Homo sapiens: one gene and its partners. The protein of the gene in region 2 purifies or fractionates together with the protein of the main gene of each other region. This does not show direct contact. Each region holds a gene or a part of one and is shown on either strand. Other genes may lie near its edges.

Region 1 (4,225 bases), on a different chromosome or scaffold from region 2:
GGATTCTACTCAGTCGATAACAGACACTTCTAACCCTTCAAAGTTCAAAGTACAACACTCCAGGGGGAGCAACCTCTCTCAGAGAACTATACAAGACAGGACCTCGGAGTCTCAGCCGACCGCCTCGGTCTCAGTCGGTTTCCCTCCCCAAAGACGGGGAAAGTGAGGCAGCAGGAGAGACAAATGCCTAATTTGGACTCACGCAAGGGGTGTTGGTGGGATAGACTCTCCCCACCCCACTCGGGCAATAAGCCCGGAAGCAGTTGGATCCTGTGTCTGGGACACCTGGTCGATCTACAGAGAGAGGGAATAATTCCCGTTTCCCTTTCACTACTCCCCACTCTGGCTTTCCTGTGGATGGAGGTGTCTTCTTCCCATCACCGCCCAGAAATCCCCTCTCCCCAAGGTCCTTACCCAATTTTCAGCTCCGGCTTCCGTAGTAGGACATTCCGCTAGTTCTAGCTCCTGCTTCCTAGCCCCATTCTCTCTCTATCCCAAGGCGTTTCTAAATCTCCCCGGGGAGGTATGCCTCATCCGTGCCACCTAGACCGTAAACTCCACAAAAAGAACCCTCCTAAAGCGTCCCTTCATCTACCCTTTCTATCCCGGGCACCCCTGAGTAGGTCAGGACCCCATCGGTACCAGGAGCCACCCCAGGAGATAGATAGCTGCCTCTCACCTGGGCCCTGTTAGCCGCAGCCTCCTCAGAAGGGCGACCCCCAAGAACCTCTTCTGGTGAGGACCCCCGAAAGAGGGAACACCCTCTTCTAGGAACCTCTTCAGATCCCTCAAGCGCGGGCCTCGGTGGAAAACCTCTCGGCTGTTTCTCAGGTTCTGACCAACGCCACCTCTCTCCCGGGCCCTTTCCAGAGCCTACCCCGGCCCCAGTCCGGTCCGCCCGCCCCAGGCTCGAGCGGCTGTTCCCCTCCCTCACAGACGTCCCCAACCCTCAGACTCCCTCCCGTTCCGCGTGCCCAGGGCTCAGAGCAGCGCGGTCGGGCTGTGGCACTGACTTTCTCTACCTCCCGGGCCCACCGGAGGGAGGGGGCGGCGGCGGCGGCGCGACTCCTTTGTGACAGGTCCGAGAGAACGGCAAAGATGGACGCGAGGCCACGGCGCTGCCATTACGCGCAGAGCCCACCCCCGCTTCGTACCGCCCCAGCCCTCCCTCAGTCCCCTAGGAAACGCCCCTTCCTCGGTGGCAAGCCCTCTCCTTGACAGCCAATCACCTTTCAAAAATCGTGTCACGTGATCAGCGGGACCGGCCCGCCCTCCAGGCGCAGACTGGCCAGTCCTCATCCTGAGGCGTGAATGGCCCAATCAAGTCTCTCCGGCTCGTTTTCAGGGTACCGGATTTCCATCGGGCTCCCGGGGAGGAAGAGCTCCGCGGATTGGGTTACGTCGCCGGAAGTGGGGCGGGACTCTATTGTGGCGGTGAGGAACAGGAAGCCCTGAAGGGTCAAAAGAAATACAAAAGCAAAGGCTATTTTCTTTTTTTTTTTCTTTCTTTCATTCATTCCTTCCTCTGTTTCTTTCTTTCTTCCTTTCATTTTTTTTTCTTTTTTAAGAGCGAGCGGCTCTGCGGTGGCGGTTTGGGGTGGGCGCCGCCGAGGTGAGGTCGTCTCGCCTCCCGCGCGCCGGTAGGTGAGTGCGGCCTCGGTCCTGGCCTGGCGGCGACACCTGGGTTCCAGCTTCCTTACGGAAGAGATGAGCTGCGGCTGCTGTTAGGGTTAGGGCCAGGCCTGTTCTCAGTCCGCGCACCCGCTCCTTGTCCGGAGTAGCCGAAGCCTGGGGCTTGCGGGCCCAGCCTGAGGGGAGCTGAGGGTGCCCGCGGGAAGGCATCTGGGTCGCGGCGAGGACCCTTTCAGGCGGGCCCAACACTGCCGGGCGTTTAATGGGGTTTCCCCAATTTTCTGCTAGGTAGGGCCACCCAGGTTTCAAGTGAGTAGCAGGCTCCGTTCCAGAGGTCTTGGAACAGGTCCAGGTTACTCACTCGGATGTGCGGCGTCTGGTTGGAAATGGTTGAATCCCAGAATGGCAGTGCAGGATGGGAAGCACATTTATTGTGTGCCATGTACCAGTTGCTGTGCCAAGCGAATTTTCTATTACGGAAAACAAGCCAGCTGGCCCGTTTTGCAGAAAACTTAAGAAACAAAGAGAGTTGAAGCGTCATGCTTGAGAGTTGGTGGTCCTTGTGACTGTCAGTCCACACAGAGGAAAGGGGGAGACCTGTTTGTTCGTAGTCGTGGTTCTTTAATGTTAGTGGAAAACAAGATCTCCTGGGGCCCTTTTAAAATGCAGTTTCTCAGACTCCCGCACGCTCGGGTAGCCCGACTGGTTAGTTCAGGAGTGGGACCCAAGAAGCCAGATGCGAGCCTGGTGATCGGAATTCCCGATGACCTCTTGCCTACCACCTGTGACATAAGATTTGTCGATTCATCAGTTATTTGGTGTATTCATGTGTCCACAGGGACACCATAAAATGGAAGGCACCCTTCTGAAATATTTGAAGGGAATCAGTGGGTAGACTCCTTTTTGATACAAAGTATTGAGCCGACAGCAGCTTTTACAGTCTTTTAGTTAGATGACCTGCGAACAATTTGTAAGGATCTGAAAGTAGAGGCTGCCCGATTATCTTTCTCAACTGAAGTCTTCATGTCCTTACCCTGTGGGGAAGTGCTTCATGATATAAGAAAGGAATAATTGTGTCAAAACCATTTAGTTGATTATCAGTCTTCACTTTCATCTTCCAAGAATGGTGATGCTTGGTTAGAATCAAGCTGCTGCTTTAGCTATTGAAAACCACGTATGTGGTAAATCAAGTAACAAGTGCGATGTACGTACAGGGTCAGTCATAGTGTAATTATGCCTTTATGGCAGCTAAATTAAGCATTTTCAACGTGTTCACCATTAGTCACCTTTTGAACATACTTTGTCTTCATTCTTAAATATTATGTTTCACTCTTTACTATAGAATATGTTGTTAAGATTGTTTTGTCTAAAATCAAGTATCGACAAGTTTAAAAAAAAGATTGTTTTGTGTTTGGTTTTCTGTATTTCCACTATGCTCTATGGAACTATGGGTTTGTTTTTGTTCAATTTGTTTGGTATTTATTAGACTTCTTGAATCTGTGGATTAGTGTCTTTCATTAATTCTGTAAAATTCTCAGCCATTTTATATGCATATATTGCTTCTTCCCATTGTTTCTCTTTTTTTTTTTATCGATTTAACTAAACCTTTTCACTCTTTTCTCTATGTCTTTTACTCTGTTCTTTCGTAGTACATTCTGGATAATTTATTCTCAAGTTATTTCCATTGTTATTAAACTCGGCCTCTGAAATCTTAAATCATATATTGCAATTTTTAGTTTCTGAAGTTCTGTTTGGTTTGTGACACTTTTACAGTTTTTTATTTCTTACTATTTTGAGGCTTAATTTTATTTCTTTAAACATGGAAAGTATAGTTGTTTTTATAATCTCTATGTTTAATTCCACTGTCTGAATTCCCTTTGGGGGAGTCTGTTTCTGTTGTCCATTATTCCTGCTGTTTTACTTCCCAGTTCACCTTTACTTTGAAGCTGTAGTTCTTTTGGGCACAAGATTAAGATGGAGAGGGAGGTAGTTGTCAGACTCCACTCCCTGGATGGGCTCCTGGCTTGAACTTGTTTCTGTTATCTCATAAAGGCACTGAAACTTTAGCTTTTAGGTCAGAGAAGTCCTCAGGATGAAATCCATTTTGAATATTGGGCTTAATTTCTGGTTTTCACCTTCTAGATTGTGTCCAAATTCTTTACTATCTTGTTAGCTTTTCTATTTAAGAATTAATATTTTTGGCTGGGCGTGGTAGCTTACACTTGTAATCCCAGCACTTTGGTAGGTCGAGGTGGGCAGATCACTTGAGGTCAGGAGTTTGAGACCAGCCTGGCCAACATGGTGAAACCCTGTCTCTACTAAAAATACAAAAATTAGCCAGTCATGGTGGCGGGCACCTGCAATCCCAGCTATTCGGGAGGCAGAGGTAGGAGAATCGCTTGAACCTGGGAGGTGGAGGTTGCAATGAGCTGAGATCATGCCACTGCACTCTAGTCTGTGTGACAGAGCGAGACCCTATCTCAAAAAAAAAATTATTTTTGACAAATTTCCAGCATATTTAGTGCAGAGGTGGAGAATTGGTTTCAATTACCTAGCCCACTATTTCAAGAAATGAAAATCCCCCTGTATTCTG
Region 2 (3,500 bases):
TACTCTAGTGGTAGAGGGTACCCAAACAGCAGCTGGAGGATGACTGGGAGGCAGGGAGGCTGAACTGGGAGGTGCAACTAAGAGCCTGTCTCTGGTCAGTCAGCTGACGAAAGAATGAGACAATCCAGTGTTCTGTTCCCCATAGTCTGTTACCCATCAGTCTGGTAAACACAGACGTCTCTCTTAAAATGTCTCAAGATAATAAGCTAACAAAGAGTGATTGTCCTCAGAACGAAGCAGAGGCCAGGAGCTGTGGCTCAGGCCTGTAATTGGGAGGTTGAGGTGGAAGAATATCTTGAGCCCAGGAGTTCAAGACCAGCCTAGGTAACATAGCAAGACCCCATCTCTTAAAAATAAAATGAGCTGGGCATGGTGGTGCCTGTCTGTAGTCTCAGCTACTTGGGAGGATCGCTTGAGTTCCAGAAATCCAGGCTGCAGTGAGCTATGATGGTGCCACTGCACTCCACTCCAGCCTGGGCAACAAAGTGAGATCCATCTCTTAAAAAAAAAAAAAAAAAGCGGGGGGTGGGGTGGGCACTGTGGACTGAAAACAAAAGGTTTGTGTAAGAAGCAAACTGACATTACTCCCAACGCTCCTGCTCTTATCTTCCTACTCTCTTACTAAACCACGAGGTCAAGTTCATCCTTAAGCCACAGGAACAGTAAAAGAATGAAAAAAACTAATGTGGCTGGTTTTTGACCTCCCCATTCCCCCATTCTCCATCTATACCCAAAGCCTTAGACTCTAAGGAGTAGTGTTAGAAAGGGTGTGTTCTGTAATCCTGTCCTCGCAAGCCAAAGTCTACTCTCCCCTTCTGCCCAAAGCTTCCTAGTTGCTTTCTATGGTCCTCCTGAATTCTTAGGGGAGGCTTTTTCTCACAGATTACAAAGACTCGAGCACTATTAAGGGAGCAGGCAGTATGGCAATTACAGGTGGCACAAGAACAGAGCAGGTATAAAGTCTAGGGCAGGGATGGGCGTGGTGGCTCATGCCTGTAATCCCAGCACTTTGGGAGGCCGAGGCAGGCGGATCACCTGAGGTCAGGAGTTCAAGACCAGCCTGGCCAACATGGTGAAACCCTGTCTCTACTAAAAATACAAAAAACTAGCCGGGCATGGTGGTGGGCAACTGTAATCCCAGCTACTCGGGAGGCTAAGGCAAGAGAATTGCTTGAACCCAGAGGCGGAGGTTGCAGTGAGCTGAAATCGTGCCACTGCACTCCAGCCTGGGCAACAAAAGCGAAACTCCGTCTCAAATAAAAAAATAAAGTCTAGAGCAGAAGTTCTTCAAGTACAGCCTCAGTTACCACCTGTAGGAAAATCACCTGGGACTGCCAGTTAAAGCAGAGCTTCCCAGTTTGTACCTCAGAACAGTGGACTCAGAATTGAGGGTTGGGGCAGAGATGGCAATCTGTTTAACAGGTTTCCCAGGTGATACTTACACACACTAAAATTTGAGAACCACTGGTTTGGATAAACCAGAAAGAATTAAATTATAAAACTGACATTGAGGAGGTAATCTGTGAGAGAAAAGTGAGCTTGCTATCCACACCAAACTCTATCCCTGGTAGCAACTTCACATCTGGTTAGTGGGTATGTATTACACCTTCTGGCAAAAATCTGAAAAAATATAACTGAGGAACAGGAACAACACTGGCAAACAGAGAGACAAACATTCCTTTCAGGATCCTATGGGAACTACTCACCTCCTCCAGACATTTCCTAAGGAGTTCCACTGCCCTCTCACGTGAGATAGCTGAAAGAGAACACAGAGACCAAATACTTCCGGTGCTGTCATTATATCCAACTCTCAGAAGCTTTTGATTAAGTTCCAAATCTGGCTTCTTCAGGTCTCAGTGCCACACAAACGTAAAAGGCAAAAAATGCTTTGCCTTCTAGCCTGCAATCAACTTACTCCACATGCAGCTGGGGGGGCCCCAGACCCAGTGCTCCAGCAGCTATAAGCCATTGCAAATTGATTTGCTACAGTAAAGGGTGAGCATGAAGGAATTCTGCCTCCCCTGGCCAGGGCCCACCTCTGAAGAAGTCCAGCAGCCTGTCTCTCTTTATCATAACCCACCCCTTTCACTCCCCCTTAGTCCAGGGTTTGAATCAATTCCATCTGCCCCAGTCAGCTGCAAATCAGGGAAAGAGACGATGGGGTCAGAATTTCAGCCTTGTTTTCCCAGCTGGGTCTCTGTTTAACAATGGGAAGAGAATTCATAGGATGGGGCTGAGACTCTCCCCAAATAGGAGCCAAAGGAACTGTCTGTGGGCGTGGCAAACTGGGACGACATGTTATGCACTCAGGCTTCAGGGGTGGCTAGTAGTTATTTTGGTGGGCAAATCAGCTGTATTACTGACAGATGCCAAATCAAGAAAGTCACTGGGAGGCCAGGCTAATTCTTTTCAGGATGTGGCCTGGAGCTCTAGCGTGGCTAAGGTTGAGCGAGAGGGCAGCACCAAAAAAGAATGAACATGCCAGATTCTTACGATACTGACAGTGAAGAATGGAATGTAAGGAGAGAAGTGGTTATCTGTGCTTCATCTATAGTCTGTAAAAGCTAAGAATTCCAAAGTACCCACTGCCCACAGAGGCTAAAGTCGAGGTTAGGACTGGGGTCAGAAGATGGAACTTAGCACAAAAGCATCCCTGTGTCTAGGAAGTCCTAACCAGAGCACTTAGGCAAGGGGAGGAAATAGAGTACCCCAATTGGAAAGCAGGAAGTCAAATGTCCCTATTTGCAGATGACATGATCTTCTATATAGAAAAACCTAAAGACCCCACCAGAAAACTCTCACATCTGATAAATGAATTCCATAAAGTTGCAGGATACAAAATTAATATACAAAAATCAGTATTTCTATACACAAACTAGCTGAAAAAGAAATCAAGAAGGCAATCCCATTTACAATAGACACAAAAATCAAAGAAAATAAAATACCTAGGAATAAATTTAACCAAGGAGATGAAAGACCTCTATAACGAAAACTATAAAACACTGATGAAATAAGCTGAAGAGGATACAAGCGAATGGAAATACATCTCATGCTCATGGATCAGAAGAATTAATATTATGAAGATGACAACACTACCCAAAGAAATTTATATATTCAATGCAATCCCTATCAAAATGCCAATGACATGCCTCACAGAATTATGGAAAAAAATCCTAAGATTTGTAAGGAACCACAAAAGACTCTGAATAGCTAAAGCAATCCTGAACAAAAAGAACAAATCTGGTAGTTGATACCACTACCAGACTTCAAAATATATCACAAAGTTGTAGTAACCAAAACAGTATGCTACTGGCATAAAAATAGACACATAGACCAATTAAACAGAATAGAGAAATTAAGAAATTAAGCCACATATCTACATTTGACTTTTGATGAAGGTACCAAGAACACTCATTGGGGAAAGGACAGTCTGTCTCTTCAATAAATGGTGCTAGAAAAACTGGATATCCATACACAGAAGAATGAAACCAGACCCTCAC
Region 3 (4,220 bases), on a different chromosome or scaffold from region 2:
GATGCTTTCCTAATTTAGTTCCTGGATCACCACAGTATCCTCCTAAATGGATCTCACTGCCTTCCATCCTCCTTGATGCTACCTGAGGGCTTTTCTGAAGACACTTTTTCTTTTTCCTTTTTTTTTTTTTTTTGAGACAGGGTCTGGCTCTGTTGCCCAGGCTGGAGTGCAGTGGCGCAATCATGGCTCCCTGCAGCCTTGACCTCCCCAGCTCAAGGAATCCTCCCACCTCGGCCTCCCGAGTAGCTGGGACCACATGTGCGCGCCATGACGCCCGGCTACTTTTTTGTATTTTTGGTAGAGACGGGAGTTTCACCACACTTGTAATTGCAAAATTGCCCTGAAATGATTTTTCCATTCTCTTCCCGACAAAATCCAAATTCCTTAGCTAGTCATTATCTGACCTTGGCCTTCCCTCCAATTTCATCTCCCCAGCTAAATCCAAAGACAGATAATTTGCCACCTAGCCTAATATTTAAAAGAGTACACTGGCGTTAGCCTGCCTTGACTTGAAATCACAGAACCTACTTCACAGGGATTAAATGAACTAGTACACATATAAAGAACTTATGTCTTGCCTGGTACATCATGTGGTAAATATTAGCTATTCTTCTTATCCACCCTCTCAACTCATGCATTTGCACCTGGTGGTCCCCTTGCCTGGAATATTACCTCTCACCATCCATCTAACCCCTGCTTCTCTTTAAAGATTCAATCCAGGAGTCAGATTCCTAGCAAGTTTACCCTGCCCCACCCTTCCATCTCGTTAGTCTCCACCGCTTCCTATTCAAATTATTGTTTGCGTCGGTCACTAGACCGTGAACTTCCTAAAGGAGGGATAGTGTCTTCATCTTTTTGGTCAAAACCTAAAGACAGGTGCACGATACTTTCTGAATGACTGCACAGAAAGCGCCCCATATGTAATTAAGTCTGTTAATAAATATTCCTAAACGTTATTTTGTCTTGTATGTAGACCTGCCCCGAATACAGTACAGGAGCATCTTCAAAGTACTTCCAGTGGGTGCCCTGGACAGCAGCTAAGAACCCCGGGGTAAAACGAGTTTCCTCTCTACTGTTACAAATCAGAAACCTCCTCCGTAAAAGCCTCAGATCTGGGAAACGCGGATGCATATGCCAACTTTTGAGTCTCAGTCTGCGCCTGCGCACGTGACCTCTACACGTCTCCTCTGCGCCTGCGCCGCTCAAGTTAGCGCGAGGCTACTCAGTCGAGGGTGGGACTACGCTTCGCGTTTTGGGATTGGGCGCTGAAGGCCAAACCGGACGACGCGGAAATGACGTCACGCCGGGGGCCCTGCCGCGCGGTGGCTGCTGGGTGCCGCACGCCTTCCCATCCTCCTCCTCTCCCCTCCCCCATCCCTCCCCGCCCCCTCGGCCGCTCCGCTCCCTGGCGTGACTCGGCACTGAGAGTCCCGGGAGAAGACTCGGCGGTCGCCACCTCTTCTGTCCAGGCCTCGGCCTTCCTGAGCATCTCTCCTTCCTCTCCCAGATCGTCTTCTCCTTCAGTTTCAAAGCCAGTGGCGTCGCGGCCACCCTGCCGGGCTCTCTGTGAGGATGGTGGGGGTGAAGCCCGTCGGGAGCGACCCGGATTTCCAGCCAGAGCTGAGCGGCGCGGGCTCCAGACTCGCCGTGGTCAAGTTCACCATGAGAGGGTGAGGCCAGGCTCGAGCTCTGTGGGTCCCCGTCTGTCCTTCCTTGCTTTCCTTTCACTCTTTGTTGGCCCTGGTTTCCTAGCCGTCTGCTGCCCCGGAGTGTCCGGCAGTCGCCGCAGCCCCAGGAGCTGCCGGAATTAGGCCTCGTTTCTCGGGTGTGAACCCCCATTTATGCACAGGGGTTCCTAGACGGGCTCGGGGGCCTGGCTGGCCGGCTTCTCCAGCTCAGGAGATTTCTCACCTGCTCCTTTTCAATTCTTTGACAAACTGGTTTTGGGGGTGGCCCGCCCCTATTCCTTCCAGCCTGTGGGAGTCTCCGCAGCCACCCTTGCCTGAGCCTGACCCCTTCTTTCTGCAGAGCCAGCTGTCATTTGCATCTCCAGAGCTCCAAAAGCTTAATTTACCGAACACTTTGTTTCTCTTCACCACCTACATCTCTCTAAAGCCTTTGAAGATTCAGATGGGGCGATCTAACTAATATGCGTAGCTCTGAGTCCTGAATTTCTGCTAATGCATTTCGAACTAAGTTAACGTTGGGTTAGGGTGCTTTTTAAATTATTTGAACTTTTTTCTTCCTCGTTCGGCCACTAACTTGTAGCTTAGGCTCCCCTATGTATGCGATTGCAACTGGTCACACACGACAGTACATATATAATATATTTCAGGTGGACAGTTGGCCGGATGTCTTAGTTTGACCCGGCTCTGTTTTTTCACTTAAGAGGACAGGGATCTTGAAAAATGTTAACTGTCTTTGGTAAATATCAACAAAATTATAGGTCGTAGAAAAGGTGGACCTTTTATAGTGGATGTGTAGTAAAGTTCCTTTGTAAGAATGACATGTTGGAACTCGGCGTTGAGAACCAAGATTTCAGCGTGTGTGTGTGTTTCACAGATCTCTCCTTGTGTATGTCGATAGTATTTAGTTAGAAGTATGAGAGGTTTCCGCTTTATTTTCCTTGACCCCTTGGCGTTATTTATACATCTAACTTGGAGCAGTCTACTGCTGGTATCACTGTTTATGTAACACACTTTCTTGTCCAAATAACTGTATAAACACAAAATTCCATTTTGAATTTCAGAGCAAAAAACAAAGTTTCTACTAGATGGTTCACTAAATGTTGAGTATATAAATGGTGGCATTAGGATTATATCGTTTTAGGGAATGGATGCAGATAGATATGAAAACAAGTTAAGACTTATTTTTGGACCAGTCTCTCTTACACTGAATTGAAAAAGGATAGTACCTTGCATTTCATATGGTGGGCTAGAGTACCCATATGATATACGGAATTTTGCATTTACTAAATTTAAAAGGATAAGTGATGTCATATATATAAAACACCTAAAAGGAATGTTAGAATTCTATAAATGTGTCTTCTCATTTTTAGCAATTTTGTGATGTCTGTATTCTTAATAATAGGGGAATACCTGTAGTACATTAAGTATCTAGGCCACAGTAGAAAAGGGAAGATAGGATTTCAATAAGGAACCTCACCTCACTTTTAGTTCACTTATTCTAATTCTGGCCCGTCGAAGCTTTTATATTTTTGTCCCTCAATGATATATTGTTTTTCTCCCTTACCATAGCAGTGGGAGAGATAATAAAATAATAAATAAATATTGATTGAAGTGAGAAAACTGGGGAAACATTGCTGCGAAGGAAGGTTTTTTCTATCAGTGTGGTGTCACTTAAGCATAAGCATAACTGCAGACATTGATTGGTAAGGAACTGTTACATTTAAAAAGGTATTTTAGTGGAATTAAAATTTTTTTTCTTTGTAAAAACCGAGGGAAAATTAATGTTTGGATTTAGAGTAAGTTCAAAAGCATATTTATATTACGTTTACAAATCTGGTAAGATTATTGTATTTACCTTTAATATTCCTCGAACTTATTGGCCATTAATACATCCTGTCTAAACTCATTGTCAATAGAACCCCAGAATTATGTATATGACGGGTCAGTATTAGACTCAGAAACAACTGTATTCAGTAAAATCTTGTAAGAATCCTCTTAGATCAAAGTTAATGCTGTCCCAGTTTAGACTGAGGGCATAGTTTCTCCAGCACCTATTTCATTTCCTTTCCAACCCTATTTTAAACCTTTTTTCTTTTTTTTTAACCTCTATGCTTTATGCACTCTCAGTCTAAATTTTACTAAAATGATACATAGATTGTTCTCCTGTGTAAGAATCTTTAGTGGCTTATGATAAAATATATATAACATAAAATTGACCATTTAGCCATTTGTAAGAGTATAATTCATTGGCATTAAGGACAGTCAGCCCTCTGTATCCATGGATTGAACCAAATGTGGATAGAAAATATTTGGAGAAAAAAAATTGCATTTGTGCTGATCATGTACACACTTTTTTCTTGTCATTATTTTCTAAACAATACAGTATAACAACTATTTACATAGCATTTACCTTAGGCATTATAAGTAATCTAGAGATGATTTAAAGTATATGGGAGAATGGTCGTAGGTTATGTGCAGATACCATGTCATTTTCTATTAGGCCCTTGAGCATCTGTGATTTAGTGTCTTGCT
Region 4 (3,500 bases), on a different chromosome or scaffold from region 2:
TCTTTCCACTATACTGGGGAAAAGATTCAGCTCAACTGGCATAAGGACACACAACAGGGTGGCTAGGTGTCCATGGAGGTGGGTGTCCAAGCGTGCACACATATGAGCATGAGTACATCCCTAGCCACCAGAGCATTGCACCAGGGTCTGCGGCTTTAGAAAGAGGTCAAAGTACCTGTATTTTTAATAATTTCTTGACATGGTAAAAGAATTTTACATTACGATCCATGGGTGATAGGGTGAGGAGGAGGGGCAGTGGAACAGTCCAACAAACGAAACGGGAAACTGAGAAACACATGGAGGGAAGGGGGAAGGGTTTTAGCTGGAAGGGATCTGGAGGGTGGGTGGGAGCACTGCCCAACTAAAATGCAATTGGTTTGTTACTGAGTACTATTCGTGGGAAGACAGCATCCTGACTCCCTCTCTACAGAATATTGGGAGTAAAAATGATGCATCCCCGGTGGAAATATTATTGGGGGTTGGAAGACAGAGACAGGAAAAATAAGTCAGAAACAGACACTAAGAGTCACTGGCAGGCTGACTGCAGGTATCAACTCTCCAGCCGTGGTAGAATAAAAGAGCTAGGGGCTGAAGGGGATTAACACAAAAGCTGTTAACAATTAAGTGATATCTCTGGAAGATTCGAGAGACAGGAGGCAACTCTTCTATAGTTTTGACTTGCCCAGCACATTTCCACATACACAAATGTGTATATGCACGTGTGTGCATGCACATACACATACACACCAATGATTGCTTTCCCCGGAAGCCCGACACTATAAATAAAGAGAAATAGTTCCCAAAAGGAAAGCCCAACATGAGCAGCAGCATCTGGACCTCACACTTGCAGAAACCTTCACCCCAACTGAAAACTGGCTGGGAAAAGGCAACCAGGAGTCAAGCTCTTGCAATAATGCCAAAAAGGGCTGAGTCAGAGAGGAACAGGCTTTCCCCAAGCCCTCTGCTTCTCATCTCTCTGTTCTCCACCAACTCACCCTGGGTACCAAGAGGCTACAGTATCAGGAGGGAGGACGGGCCCAGGACGTTTGTCTGGGTAGATGACAACTAAGACAACTGTCACCTCCTGAAAGGTATGTGACAGGGGTTGTGGAGAGGGAGGGTATGTTAGCTAATGGAGTAGGAGTCTGTGTGTGCATGTCTGTATGGGCGTATACATGCATACACATATGTGCATGTGAAAACGCCCATTATAAAAACAACTGAAGGAGCTTCGGAATTGACTGAAGGCCTAAGGTATTTCTTGTCACGATCAAGATTCAAAGTGGGATGTACACAGATGGGAAGCCCTAAGTCATCACCAGGGCAACTGTGGGAGGATCCAATGCCCCACAGAGGAAAGAAACAGTAACCTCATGTGAGGAAGAGAAGTTCGTCCCCCCGCCACCCTAGTTCCTAAAAAACACCTAGCACTTTCCTTCCGGTTCCCTCAGCTTTTAACCAACTAATTATCAAACGGAAGAAAACATAAAGCGCAAGACACAGGAGGGAGAGAGGGGGAGAATGAAAACACAGGTATTTTTGTGCCAACATCCTGCACACACAAACCTGGAGTTCTCCAGAAATTACGACAGGTTGGGTGTGGGGTATTAGGGAAGGAAATAGAAGAGTTCCTGAGGCCTGAAAAAAGAGGTAAACACATCACAGAACTAGATGAGAGTTTCATTAGACTCTAACTAAAAACAGAGAGGTGTGATTACTATTTCCAGCCAGTTTCCCCATCACGATAGTCATGTAACAAACCAAGGCAATGTCGGTCTTGAGCCAGACTCACAGAGTCCCCTGGCCCTGGCCCTGGCCTCAGTACAGAGTCTCTGCATTGCTGCTCCGGGGCCGTTTGATCTTCTCGATATTTTTCAGGATCATGTCATGTAGAGTGACCTGAGAGAAGAGGGATCAGGGGAATCACATATCTGTACAACCCTTACCTCATCAAGAAAATGAGAGACCCCTTCACAAATCCCCAAGCAATCATCTGCATACGGTAAGTCCTTAATGTCATCAATAGGTTCTTAGCAACTGCGACTTGAAGGAAATTAAAGTACAGCAGGTAAGCAAATCAAGTACAGAAGGTCCTCAAATAACCTGGTTTCAAATAACATCATTTTGTTCGATGTCATTTTGTTACAATGTTAATGAAAAAAAAACTTGGTTTTGATATACATCATTTTTAAAGTCGCAGTTTCTAAGAACCTATGGACAACATTAAGTGAAGACTTACTGTATTTTTTTTTTTTTTTTTTTTTGAGACACGGTCTTGCTCTATCGCTCAGGCTGGAGTGCAATGGCGCGATCTCGGCTGACTGCAACCTCCGCCTCCCAGGTTCATGCCATTCTCCTGCCTCAGCCACCTGAGTAGCTGGGACTACAGGCGCCTGCCACCACACCCGGCTAATTTTTTTTATTTTTAGTACAGATGGGGTTTCACCATGTTAGCCAGGATGGTCTCGATCTCCTGACCTCGTGATCCGCCCGCCTCGGCCTCCCAAAGCGCTGGGGTTACAGGCGTGAGCCACTGCACCCGGCCAACTTACTGTAATTTTAATCTCACTTGAGCCTGCATTCAGGGTGGCAGCACCACCTCTCTTATACTTCAACTGGGTATAAATGGGTATTTCCAAGGCCCCAAGTGTCTAATAACAACTAACATGTATTGTGCACTTAACATAGTAAGAATTGTACCAGGTCCTTCAATGTGTTATCTCACTTATTTTAAAAAAGCGAATGAATTTTGTGCAGTAGGTACTCTTCAGTTTTGTTTTCTTTTTTTGAGACGGAGTTTTGCTCTTGTTGCCCAGGCTGGAGTACAGTGGCACGATCTCGGCTCACTGCAACCTACACCTCTTGGGTTCAAGCGATTCTCCTGCCTCAGCCTCCCGATTAGGTGGGATTACAGGGGTCCGCCAACCATGCCCAGCTAATTTTTTGTATTTTCAGTAGAGATGGGGTTTCACCATGTTGGCCAGGCTGGTCAAAAACTCCTGACCTCATGTGATCCACCTGCCTCAGCCTCCCACAGTGCTGGCATTACAGGTGTGATCCACCACACCCGGCCTCTTCAGTCCCATTTTATTTTATTTTATTTATTTTTATTTGAGGCGGAGTTTCGCTCTTGTTGCCCAGGCTGGAGTCCAGTGGCGCAATCTCGGCTCACTGCAACCTCCGCCTCCCGGGTTCAAGCAATTCTCCCGCCTCAGCCTCCTCAGTAGCTACGATTAAAGGCATGTGCCGCCACGCCCGGCTAAATTTTTTTTTTTTTTTTTTAGTAAAGATGGGGTTTTTCCATGTTGGTAAGGCTGGTCTCGAACTCCTGACCTCAAGTGATCCACCCACCTTGGCCTCCCAAAGTGCTGGGATTACAGCCTATTTTTATTTTTTTTTTGAGATGGAGTTTCGCTCTTGTTGCCCAGGCTGGAGTGCAATGGAGCAATCTTGGCTCACCGCAACCTCCAACTCCCGGGTTCAAGTGATTCTCCTGCCTC
Region 5 (3,500 bases), on a different chromosome or scaffold from region 2:
TCCAGCCTAAGCAACGGAGCAAGACTCCGTCTAAAAAAACAAAACAAAACAAATCTCTCATATGACTGATGTGTTCTTAAAAATCTTGTATAATAGTACGCTAGGCTGAAACAAAACCTCAATCAAGTTTTCCATGTTTATCAAGATCATTTGATTAAACCTTAAAGAGGCAATGACATTTTAATTTAATTTAGTAATCAGCCTGAGATATAATCTTCAAATTCCAAGTCTTGGATAAATAGCCCATAAAAACATGTACGTCGTACAGAGACTGCATTTACACACATAGATTTTCTCATAGGTTAATGAGCATACAAATCACCTTGAGGTCTTGATAAAATGCAGATTGATTCATGTCAAGTGGGCCTGAGATCTTACTTTCCTAAAAAGCTTCCAAGTGCTACCCCTGCTGCAGGTCCATGGACTGTATTTTAGTTAAAAAGGATATACCTTGATTTCATCATTACACATTGTGTGCATGTATCAAAATATCACATGTACCCCATAAACATGAACAGTTACTATTATTAATTTTTTAAGTTCCTAAAAAAATTTTGAATTTTTTTTTTTAAAAGAATGAATGAAGGCCAGGCACAGTAGCTCACACCTGTAATCCCAGCACTTTGGGAGGCCAAGGTAGGTGGAGTTCAAGAGCCAGGAGTTCGAGACCAGCCTGGCCACATGGAGAAACCCTGCCTCTATTAAAAATACAAAAATTAGCCTGACAAGGTGGCGCATGCCTGTAATCCCAGCTACTGAAGGTGGCTGAGGCATTGCTTGAACCCAGGGAGCAGAGGTTGCAGTGAGCAATGATCACACTACTGTACTCCAGCCTGGGCGATAGGGCGATAGAGTAAGACTGTCCAAAAAAAAAAAAAAAGAGAAGACAGACAGACAAGGAAGATGGACGGATGGATGGACAGACGGAAGGACAGATGGAAGGAAGGAAGGAAGGAAGGAATTCTTCAATCAGCAGGAAGGGTTTGAGACAAAATTTCCAGTGGCAGCACTGTTTTGATTTTATCAAAAAAAGCTTTATCTCAAAGAACATATAGGGATAGGAATTATGTTTTGCAAAACAGGTAACTCAAGAGTGGCTTTAGTAATGTAACGGATGACAAGAATACATGTGACATTTTAAAATAAAATTGTTTCTTGTAGGCAAAAGTGTTTGCAGTCCTCCTAAAAGGTGACCAAAAAACCCTATTTGTGTCATCTCTTCGACAAAATAGTGGTCTACCTTATGCTCAGGTGGTCCTGACATTTGACCAGGTTATTTTTAGTCTCGTGTATTTTGCTAATGAACTAACCTTAAAGGCAGGTGTGTGAAAACTATATCTTACAATTAAAAAGAGGGATACTCTAAAAGGGAGAGTCAAACTCCAACTGTCTAAAAGACTGGACAAGTAATATAAATGATAAGGAGGCTAAGAGAAAGGACTTAATGAGAAGCTGGAATGGCTTAATGAAGGGAGAAGCACACGTGCACCATCAGCAGAGTGACACAGTGCAATAATGTAGGACCAGTGTTCCAGGATCTTCCTCTTTTTCAAGAAACTGGAATTCTTTTTTAATTTTTTTTAAATTTTTTCCCCCAATGTGGATAAAAACTTCAAAAATTTAAAGATAGTAAATGTTCCTAGAGACCATTAGGCTGTAATCTGTAATCAAAAGCAATGTCTACATATCGGCATATTTCATATCACTGAAGATTTCATATTTTAATTATCAGTATCTAATGTGTTGGGAATTGCCACCAAAATGGGTAACATAGCTTTAACAGGAAATGTTCTGTACAAATATTAATACATCACCTTTTCAAATGTCCAGTGCTTAGAACCTCTGATTAAACCAGCTATAATTTCTGCAACACATCGCTGGGTGCTTTCATGTGAATCTGCAACCAAATGTTCTAAATGGGGCTTCAGAACTGGCAGGAAGGCATCATCAAAATTCCTGAATATACCCTATAAAAACAAAGACTGTTCTTCAGTACTCAAATGACTATCATCTCGATTATAATTATGCTTGTAATTATTCTGTACATTACTAACGTGCTTAAAAGCTCCAAGCACACTCCCCTTTAGAACTGCTTTAACAATTGCGGTAAGTTAAAATAGTAAGAATACTGTCATTTTAAATATCACATTAAAATGTAACCAATGAAACAAACATTAATAATCTCTCTAAGTATCACACCTCAAAAAAAGCAACTAAACATAAAAAACGCATGCAGTTTTGGGTATTTTTTTTCCTTCTAATGCCAATTACAACAAACATTAAAGATAAATACAGTCATCCCTAGGTGTATGTGGGGAAATGGTTTCAAGATCCCCACCCCAAAATACCAAAATGTTCAAGTCCATGACATAAAATGGTATTGTATTTGCATATAACCTATATACATCCTCCTGTATATTTTAAATCATCTTAAGAGTACTTTTAGGACCTAATACAATGCTTACTAATTGTATTATATATTAATGCTATGTCAATACTGGTTGTAATGTCTTGTTTAGGGAATAACGACAACAAAAGTCTGTACATGTTCAGTGTAAATTCCAGTGCCATTTTAGATCAAGGCAGATGGCTAGCTTTGATCAAATATTTATAAGTTATGAACCTACGAACTGAATAGTTACTAAGCATTACAAAGAGGATATGTAAACAATATAGTTACCTTAAAGAGGCAAAAACGTCGTGGATTAAACTTATCTTTTCCTTTTCTGTCTTCTAATGATAGAAAAGTAATTAACTGCTCAACAAATTTAGGATCAGAAAAATGATCAAATATAATCTGTTCTGCCTATAAAGTTAAAAAAAGAACAATATTCAGCGTTTAAAATCCACTTAAATACATGATTCTGAAAAAGTTAAAATTACAAGATTTTGATAGTCAAAAGCAGGCTGTATTTTTGTTTCCATGAATTCTTAGTTCTCATAGACTACAGTGATTTCTAAAACCAAGTACCTCCCTCTAAAAATGCTAAAACAGGAAGTTTTCCTTCAGATTCTCAAGTTTGAATCCTATTTCTCACACTGTGAATTAAAAATCAACAAATGTTCTGCTTGGGAAATGAAGACTGAAAGCCACTGTAACACCTGGTGTGCAATTTGTTAAAATCCCCAAAACTATAAGTCAAGCCCCAACAAATCACTTCCATATTTACCTAACACCAGAAGTTAAAAGGCAAACTGTTCAGAATCAGAAAAAGTTACAATACCATTAACTCAAGGACCAAGTACATAAACTTAAAAACCCTTTCTCAACTTTCTTTTTTTTCTTTTCTTTTTTTGGGACAGGGTCTCACTCTGTCATCCAGGCTGGAGTGCAGTGGTGCGATCATGGCTCATTGCAGTCTTGCCTTCCTCGGGTCGGGTAATTTTCCCACCTTAGCCTCCCAAGTAGCTGGGACTACAGGTGTGCACCACTACGCCCAGCTGATTTTTGTATTTTTTGTAGAGACAAGGTTTTGCCATGTTGCTCAGGATGGTCTCAA
Region 6 (2,569 bases), on a different chromosome or scaffold from region 2:
CCTTTTGACCCGTGTGTAACTTCCTCTGGTAGTTAGACCCCAGGCAGCTCCGAATTTGTGAACCTGCTTCCTGATGAATTCTCCCTTGTTCCCCCTTGGCTCTGCCATTATTTCGTTTTCAGTGTAATTTGCCAAGCCGCAGTTTTCTGTGCTGGCTGTGCCTCTAGTCGCAGCTCTGTGACTGATTCCCTCCCGGGTGCTGAGTCCCCTCCCCGGCCACCATCCTGCGTGAATATCCTGAAATTCATGGGCTTCCTCGGGGGCCCGCCCGCAGGTGGTGCTGGGTGGGTTCCGCCACCTTCTCCTGGAAGGTGAGCCTTTTCCTGGCCAAGGGCAGCTGCCTTAACCTCTGAGAGTCTGCGCTTGGCCTTAGTCCTGGAGACCCAGCCTCCAGGGACTGAACCGTGCTGCTGTTGGGAGCCAAGACCGGCCCTTTGGAGCCGGCAGCCCAGGGGTCCCTGCTGGATCAGAGAAATAGAAGCACCCGAAGACGGTTAGTGGCAATTCCTTGACCCGGTTTGCTTCCAAATGAAGGCCATTTGTCCACCAGGCATTGAAAAGACATGACTTACCCAGTCCGGCATCGGACTTGAAAAATCGAAATTGACATCACTCAGCTGTTACATTTCACATCCGATTCAGCCCCCTTTTATTTCCATGTGCTTTTCGCAGCCTTCCTGTGTTGGATGAAAGAGAATAAGAATTCAGCTGACAGGAGGCCTCTATCCTGTCCCTCCACCCCACCCTCCACCTCAATCCCCTCCCATCTTCCCCAGACCTACCTCACCTACTAGGACCTGAGGCAGCTCCTTAGCAGAGACCCCTGGGGTTTAGCTGACTCTGGGGGTCAGGGGTTCCTGTCCCCAAACTTCGCAAGACAGCCCTGAAGTCACAAGTGCTTTCTTTTAAGTGGCATTGGCAATTGGCGTGTAATGATGGCAGTAGAATCTGAATCTCGGATCCCAGGCAGGGTTCACATTTCCAAACCTTTTTGATTTCCCCTGACCTCTAATGGCTGGATCCTATTTTTCTACAACCTTTCAGTGACATCGTTCAGGTTTCTTTCTTGGCCATTTAAAAAAACAAATTTTTTTTTTCTCACTTGTAAGTCACCGCCAGTACCTAAGTTAGGCTAACGGAGACTTTGACAGGACTGGATTTTTCTTCCACCAGAAGAGAAGCCTTTTCCGTTGGTTTGGGGCCACCTCTTTGACCATGACCATGTGATGTTCCGTTTACAGTGACTTGCTTTGGGGGAGGGGAGGCTCTCTTAACCGATTCCCATGTTGTACAGTAGATGGTTAGACCTTTTGTATATTAGTGTGTTTTAAGTTATTGATTTGTTTTATATAAAATAATTTATTTTTCAGGTGCCATTTTTCATTTTAACTTTGTTTTTACATGGGTTTGTTTTCAATAAAGTCTGACACTGGTGTCCAAAAGTCAACAATAAAATGAATCCCATTGTGTTCTTTTGAAGATGCCTATGTAACTTTTAAGCTTTTTAAATTATTTTCAGAAAAAAAAAAAGAAAAGCCCTTATCAGTTTTCCATCAGCCCATTGCCTTTTTATTTTTTTTTTTTAATCCTTGTGAATAAATGTTCTTTAGTGTTTTAGGAGGAAAAAGCAAACCTAGATTTTGATAACCCAGAAGACTTCAGATTAATAAAGAAGCTTTGAAAGAAGACCATTTTTCAAAATTTTAGTGAAGTGTGAATATTTTTTGTCAATGGCTTTCTCAAAGAGAATGAAACTTTTGCACCATTTTCAGAGTTTTTATAGAGATGCCAAATTGATATATTTACATGTAATGGAAACATGAAAAAGTTTTATTAAACAATTGTTCATAGCTGTGTAGACATTTTAATTCAGTTTCCAAAGCTCTCAAAAAATCGTATTTTTGAAGTACGGAGTGATGCGGTTTGGGGCGTGGCTTACAGTTCCAACGACTCAATTGTCCCGATACTCAGTTCTTTCTACAGGTATCAGGTTCGTGTTAAACGCTGTATGTTAACTATGACTGGAATTCTGTGATATTTTGGTAATAAATGAAGTGGGATCATTGCGATGTGCTGGTGTAGGGGTGATGGTGTATGACTTGTGAGCAGCCCACAGCCCAGTAATAGAGTGCCAGGGGATGGGGACCTCTTCCCTCCGAGGTAAGCCTGTGCCAGGTCCCGGGAGCCCACGAGGGGACACCCAGTTCGGGTGTGCCCTGTGCTGGCTGACCCACGGCCCTTCAGCTCCCACCCAGATGCCCCTCTTCTCCAGGTTCACAGGTCAGTGGGCCCACCGAGTGGCCCCTGGGTATGGCCCCCCTCCATCTGCTTCCCACACCAGTGCTCCCCCAACAGTGACCCGGGGATCCTGCCTCTTCCCTCGTCTGTATGTGGAACCATAGTCACTCCCGAGCCCTGGGGCCATCCTCAGTGTCCCCTCCGTGAGACTGATCTCCTTTGTCTCCTTTGGGATGGGAATGGTTAGGGGTCTCAAGGTCAGAGAGTCCAGGTTCAAATCCTGGCTCTGACACCACTCCCCAGCGTGCCACCCAGGGGAAAGTCCCTGGCT
Region 7 (4,049 bases), on a different chromosome or scaffold from region 2:
GCAATTTTAAGTAGAGTGTTCGAGGAAAGACTCACCCTAGGTGACAAATGACTAGAGACCTGAAAAAGGTAAAGGAGACAGCCGTACAGAGATCTGGGAAAGAACATTCCAGGCAGTGGGAAAGCAAGTGTAAAGGCTTCGAGGTATGAACAGAAGCACTCTTGGGTCTGCTTACCATTTGCTTTATTAGTGCCTCTTTACCCATTCCGAAAGGTTGAAGTGATCTTTTCACACTAAACACACACACACACACACACACACACACTCTCTCTCTCTCTCTCTCTCTCTCTCTCTCTTTTTCCCATGACTTAAAATAATGAAGCTGCCAAATCCCTACCTACATCCCAGAACACGTAGGAGCTCCACAACCTAATGGACGTCTCCACATGGTTAGGTCACAGGAAACTCACATTCCACATGTCCAAAACTATAAACTTTTGCCCAAATTTTTCCCCATATTTTGTATTTTAGAAAAGGGCGCCGGGCATGGTGTCTCATGCCTGTAATCCCAGCACTTTGGGAGGCCGAGGCAGGTGGATCACCTGAGGTTAGGAGTTTGAGACCAGCCTGGCCTACATGGTGAAACCCTGTCTCTACCAAAAATACAAAATTAGCTGGGCGTGGTGGTGCATGCCTATAATCCCAGCTACTCGGGAGGCAGAGGCAGGAGAATCACTTGAACCCAGGAGGCAGAGGTTGCAGTGAGCCAAGATCGTGCCATTGCACTCCAGACTGGGCAAAAAAGAGCAAAACTCCATCTCAAAAAAAAAAAAAAGTTCAATATTATTCAATCTACCTAAACTTCTTCCCATTCCCTTACCAACTACATCTAATACATGCCTAATTTTTATTGAGGCTATCCCCCAAGTATCCTTTTAATGTAGCTCCTCCTTTGCATTCTTCCAACAACTCCTTTTGTTTTCTGTCCTTCGGGTGTTCCCTCAGCATGTTCTCCCACTTTTCACTGTTGTCACCTACCAATTGCCTAGTTACCTCCTGCAATTCCCTTCTCAACGATTTTGCTACTTGGGTTAAACTCTTCTGTACCATCCTTCTTTTCCTCACAATATTGTATTATTCCCATCAGCACGTAAACATGCTCTAATATCTTTCATTCTAAAAGGCTCTCCCTTGACCCCACATAGCCCTCTAACTGCAACCTCATTTCTTGTTTCTCTATGTAGCAAAAATTCTCCAAGTCGTCCACGAAAACATAAGCAGAAACTTTATCTCTTATTAAAAAAAAGTTTTTTGAGACAGGGTCTCACTCTGTCGCCCAGGCTGGAGTGCAGTGGCACGATTTCAGCTCACTGCAGCCTCTGCTTCCTGGGCTCAAGTGATCCTCCCACCTCAGCTTCCCGAGTAGCTGAGATACAGGTGCAGGAAACCACACCTGGCTAATTTTTATTTATTTTTTTGTAGAGATGAGGTATCACTATGTCGCCCAGGCTGGTCTTGAACTCCTGAGCTCAAGCGATCCTCCTGTACTCGGCCTTCTAAAGTGCTGGGATTACAGGCATGAGCCATCATGCCTGTCTCTGAATTAATGACTGAATATATATTATACAACCCAAATCTTTAACTTGTTTTCTATCATTCATTCAACCCACTCCAATATGGCTTTCCTCTTCACCACTTCACTGGTAACTGTTTGTCCAGGTGACCATCATTAACATGTCGCTAAATCCAAACATACACTTTCTTCACCTTACACATCTCTGGGCTACTTTTGACATGGCCACTCCCTCCTTTTTGAAACACTCTTCTCTGGGGCTGTGTGTTTTATATGTAATGAATAAGGATGACACTTCCAGCTCTCTCCAGCCTTATACCACTCCAAACAGTGCATTTTCCAATGGTGCCTTCTGGGTTCACAGGGCCTACAGCCTATTCTCTCTCAATGTGTCATTCCAAATTCTTGGCAGTCTTCAAGTCCCCCTGCTTACTGACTCTGTTTTAGACATCCATCTTTCTGAAACGCCTACTTTCCCCTACTCCCAGCCCACGGGCCCTCCATCTTTTGCATACTACTTTCTCTATAAAGCCTTTCTTAACAAGCCATCTGTCCCTCCCCTCCCAATTATCTCAGGACCTTTCTATACCCTTTCAAGCTTCTAGCCTAGCATTTATTGCTCTTAGATTACATGTTTCCAACTACAGTGTAAATTCTTTGAGGGCACGCACCTAGTCTTATTCTAATACTCGCACATAACAGACTTTATTAAAACAATGAATGAATATAAAGAGCGATAAAACTGCGCTAACTACCGGCAAGAGTTAATGTTTATTGCCCTATCAGTAGTTCTCCGGTTAACAACGATAATATGCTAGCTTAAGACTAATTCTAAAACTAGTCGTAGAAAGACTTTCTAGGATAAAACTGAAGGATGCCCTGCAAAACATAAGTACAGTGTATCTAGAACGTACGAACACATCACGTTTTACAGGAAACAGAGACTACAAATTGTAGACTTGACTACGTTTGGTTTTACAGCCGACAAAGGTTCTGTTTGGACGGCTGCCTCCGGCTACAACCTCCCTGTTTTTTCCGGCCGAAAACATGAAATAGAAACTAGTGCCCTATTTCTCCCAAGGCACCGCCAAACACCCCGCGTCGGGGTGGCGACACCGCAGGGGCCTCGGGAGGCGGCAGCCCCGAGCGCAAATGGAGACTCACCATTAGGAGGGTGAAGCCGGCAAGGTCGGGGGCCGACTCCCCGCAGGGAACGAACATGGTCGCAGTGGGGTGGCCAGCAGGGACTAACCGCGGCCCTGGCAAGAACGAGGGCAGCAAGAAGGCGGAAGCCCGAGACCCCGGAGCCTCGCGGGGCGCGGGAGGGTCCTTTGAGTCCCTGGGCGCCGGGCCCTTGAGGCCCGTCCAGCTAACTGCCGGTTCAGAGGGCGGAAAGAGGCCGCCGGGTGGCCGCGAAGAGGGGCCAGCAGCGCTTTCGGAGACCCTGGCAAGCAAGGCGATGGGGTGCGCTGAGGTCTCGGGGTGCGGGGCCCGCGGGGAGGTGGAGCGGCGGGCGGAAACGATCAGGCAGCGTGCGGGCCAGCCCCAAGCCCTGTTTGTCCGCCACTGTTTGAAAACAGTTGGCGCCGCCGCCGCCGGGGCCTCATTTCCAGGTCAGCCCCCGGCCTGACGCGGCGTTGCGTCCCCCGGGAGCTGCGCTAGGCGAACGGCTGCGGCGCTTTGTGCTCCAGTCGCTCCTAACGCTCCCTGGCCCGGCCGGGGCCGCGCAGTTAGGGCATCTGAGGCGGGGAGAAGCGGCGGGGAGACGCCGGCTGCCAGCATGTCGCTGCCTCCGGAGAAAGCCTCCGAGCTGAAGCAGCTCATCCACCAGCAGCTGAGCAAGGTGAGAGTCGCGGGTGCTGGGAGAGACCGCCGGGCCGACCCATAACCTTTCCCTCCTGCCCGGCGGCCCCGGGCCGACAGCGGCATCTGCTTGCCGGGACTGTAGCGAGGATTGTGGGGTGCGCAACGCAGAGTAGGCAGAGCTTTGAGTTTGAGGCAGGAGAGCGTCCTCGTCTCCGAGAAAGAAAACGAGCCGAGCAGGTGCTAGCAAGAGTCTGGGGCGATAGAACGAGCGGTCTTGGCGTTTTAGGACGGCCGTGAGAATGAAGCGCTTAGCGAGCGACTTCTGGAAGTCGGATCGAGTGTAAGTTGTATTTGGAGGTTTATATTCTGCTGTAAGATATCAGGTTTTTTTTCTTTCTTGAGACGGAGTCTCTCTGTTGCCCAGGCTGGAGTGCAGTGGCACGATCTCGGCTCACTGCAACCTCCGCCTCCCAGGTTTAAGCGATTCTCCGCCTCAGCCTCCCGAGTAGCTGGGATTACAGGCGCGCGCCACCACGCTCGGCTAATTTTTGTATTTTTAGTAGAGACGGTTTCACCATGTTGGTGTGGCTGGTCCCGAACTCCTGACTTCGTGATCCGGCCGCCTCGGCCTCCTAAAGTGCTGGGATTACAGGCGTGAGCCTCCGCGCCCGGCAGATATCAGGGTTTCTTTACCGCTGAAACATGTGGGTATCAGCGAAGTTGAACCAGG

Evidence for each region.
Region 1: the proteins of PSMB2 (region 2) and PSME3IP1 purify together in Homo sapiens (affinity purification with mass spectrometry, with the first as the bait; one large-scale study listed by BioGRID). This does not show direct contact.
Region 3: the proteins of PSMB2 (region 2) and TXNL1 purify together in Homo sapiens (affinity purification with western blotting; 2 studies listed by BioGRID and IntAct, with this or other methods). This does not show direct contact.
Region 4: the proteins of PSMB2 (region 2) and PSME3 fractionate together in Homo sapiens (co-fractionation; 3 studies listed by BioGRID and IntAct, with this or other methods). This does not show direct contact.
Region 5: the proteins of PSMB2 (region 2) and PSME4 purify together in Homo sapiens (affinity purification with mass spectrometry; 4 studies listed by BioGRID and IntAct, with this or other methods). This does not show direct contact.
Region 6: the proteins of PSMB2 (region 2) and ELAVL1 purify together in Homo sapiens (affinity purification with western blotting, with the first as the bait; one study listed by BioGRID). This does not show direct contact.
Region 7: the proteins of PSMB2 (region 2) and PSMG2 purify together in Homo sapiens (affinity purification with mass spectrometry; 2 studies listed by BioGRID and IntAct, with this or other methods). This does not show direct contact.

The regions. Positions count from the first base shown.
Region 1 is NC_000016.10:57,183,240-57,187,464, reverse strand, and holds the start of PSME3IP1 (PSME3-interacting protein), read left to right. Parts: upstream 1-1,425; 5' UTR 1,426-1,644; exon of another isoform or gene 1,645-4,018; intron 4,019-4,225. UniProt on the Homo sapiens protein: Promotes the association of the proteasome activator complex subunit PSME3 with the 20S proteasome and regulates its activity.
Region 2 is NC_000001.11:35,603,527-35,607,026, forward strand, and holds part of PSMB2 (proteasome subunit beta type-2), read right to left. Parts: intron 1,757-3,500; coding exon 1,707-1,756; intron 1-1,706. UniProt on the Homo sapiens protein: Non-catalytic component of the 20S core proteasome complex involved in the proteolytic degradation of most intracellular proteins. This complex plays numerous essential roles within the cell by associating with different regulatory particles.
Region 3 is NC_000018.10:56,635,793-56,640,012, reverse strand, and holds the start of TXNL1 (thioredoxin-like protein 1), read left to right. Parts: upstream 1-1,420; 5' UTR 1,421-1,572; coding exon 1,573-1,670; intron 1,671-4,220. UniProt on the Homo sapiens protein: Active thioredoxin with a redox potential of about -250 mV.
Region 4 is NC_000017.11:42,839,897-42,843,396, reverse strand, and holds part of PSME3 (proteasome activator complex subunit 3), read right to left. Parts: intron 1,900-3,500; coding exon 1,819-1,899; 3' UTR 1-1,818. UniProt on the Homo sapiens protein: Subunit of the 11S REG-gamma (also called PA28-gamma) proteasome regulator, a doughnut-shaped homoheptamer which associates with the proteasome. 11S REG-gamma activates the trypsin-like catalytic subunit of the proteasome but inhibits the chymotrypsin-like and postglutamyl-preferring (PGPH) subunits.
Region 5 is NC_000002.12:53,890,994-53,894,493, forward strand, and holds part of PSME4 (proteasome activator complex subunit 4), read right to left. Parts: intron 2,807-3,500; coding exon 2,681-2,806; intron 1,968-2,680; coding exon 1,815-1,967; intron 1-1,814. UniProt on the Homo sapiens protein: Associated component of the proteasome that specifically recognizes acetylated histones and promotes ATP- and ubiquitin-independent degradation of core histones during spermatogenesis and DNA damage response.
Region 6 is NC_000019.10:7,958,073-7,960,641, reverse strand, and holds the end of ELAVL1 (ELAV-like protein 1), read left to right. Parts: 3' UTR 1-2,069; downstream 2,070-2,569. UniProt on the Homo sapiens protein: RNA-binding protein that binds to the 3'-UTR region of mRNAs and increases their stability.
Region 7 is NC_000018.10:12,701,793-12,705,841, reverse strand, and holds the start of PSMG2 (proteasome assembly chaperone 2), read right to left. Parts: upstream 2,801-4,049; 5' UTR 2,735-2,800; coding exon 2,678-2,734; intron 1-2,677. Other genes in the region: CEP76 (centrosomal protein of 76 kDa), read left to right, coding at 3,294-3,356. UniProt on the Homo sapiens protein: Chaperone protein which promotes assembly of the 20S proteasome as part of a heterodimer with PSMG1.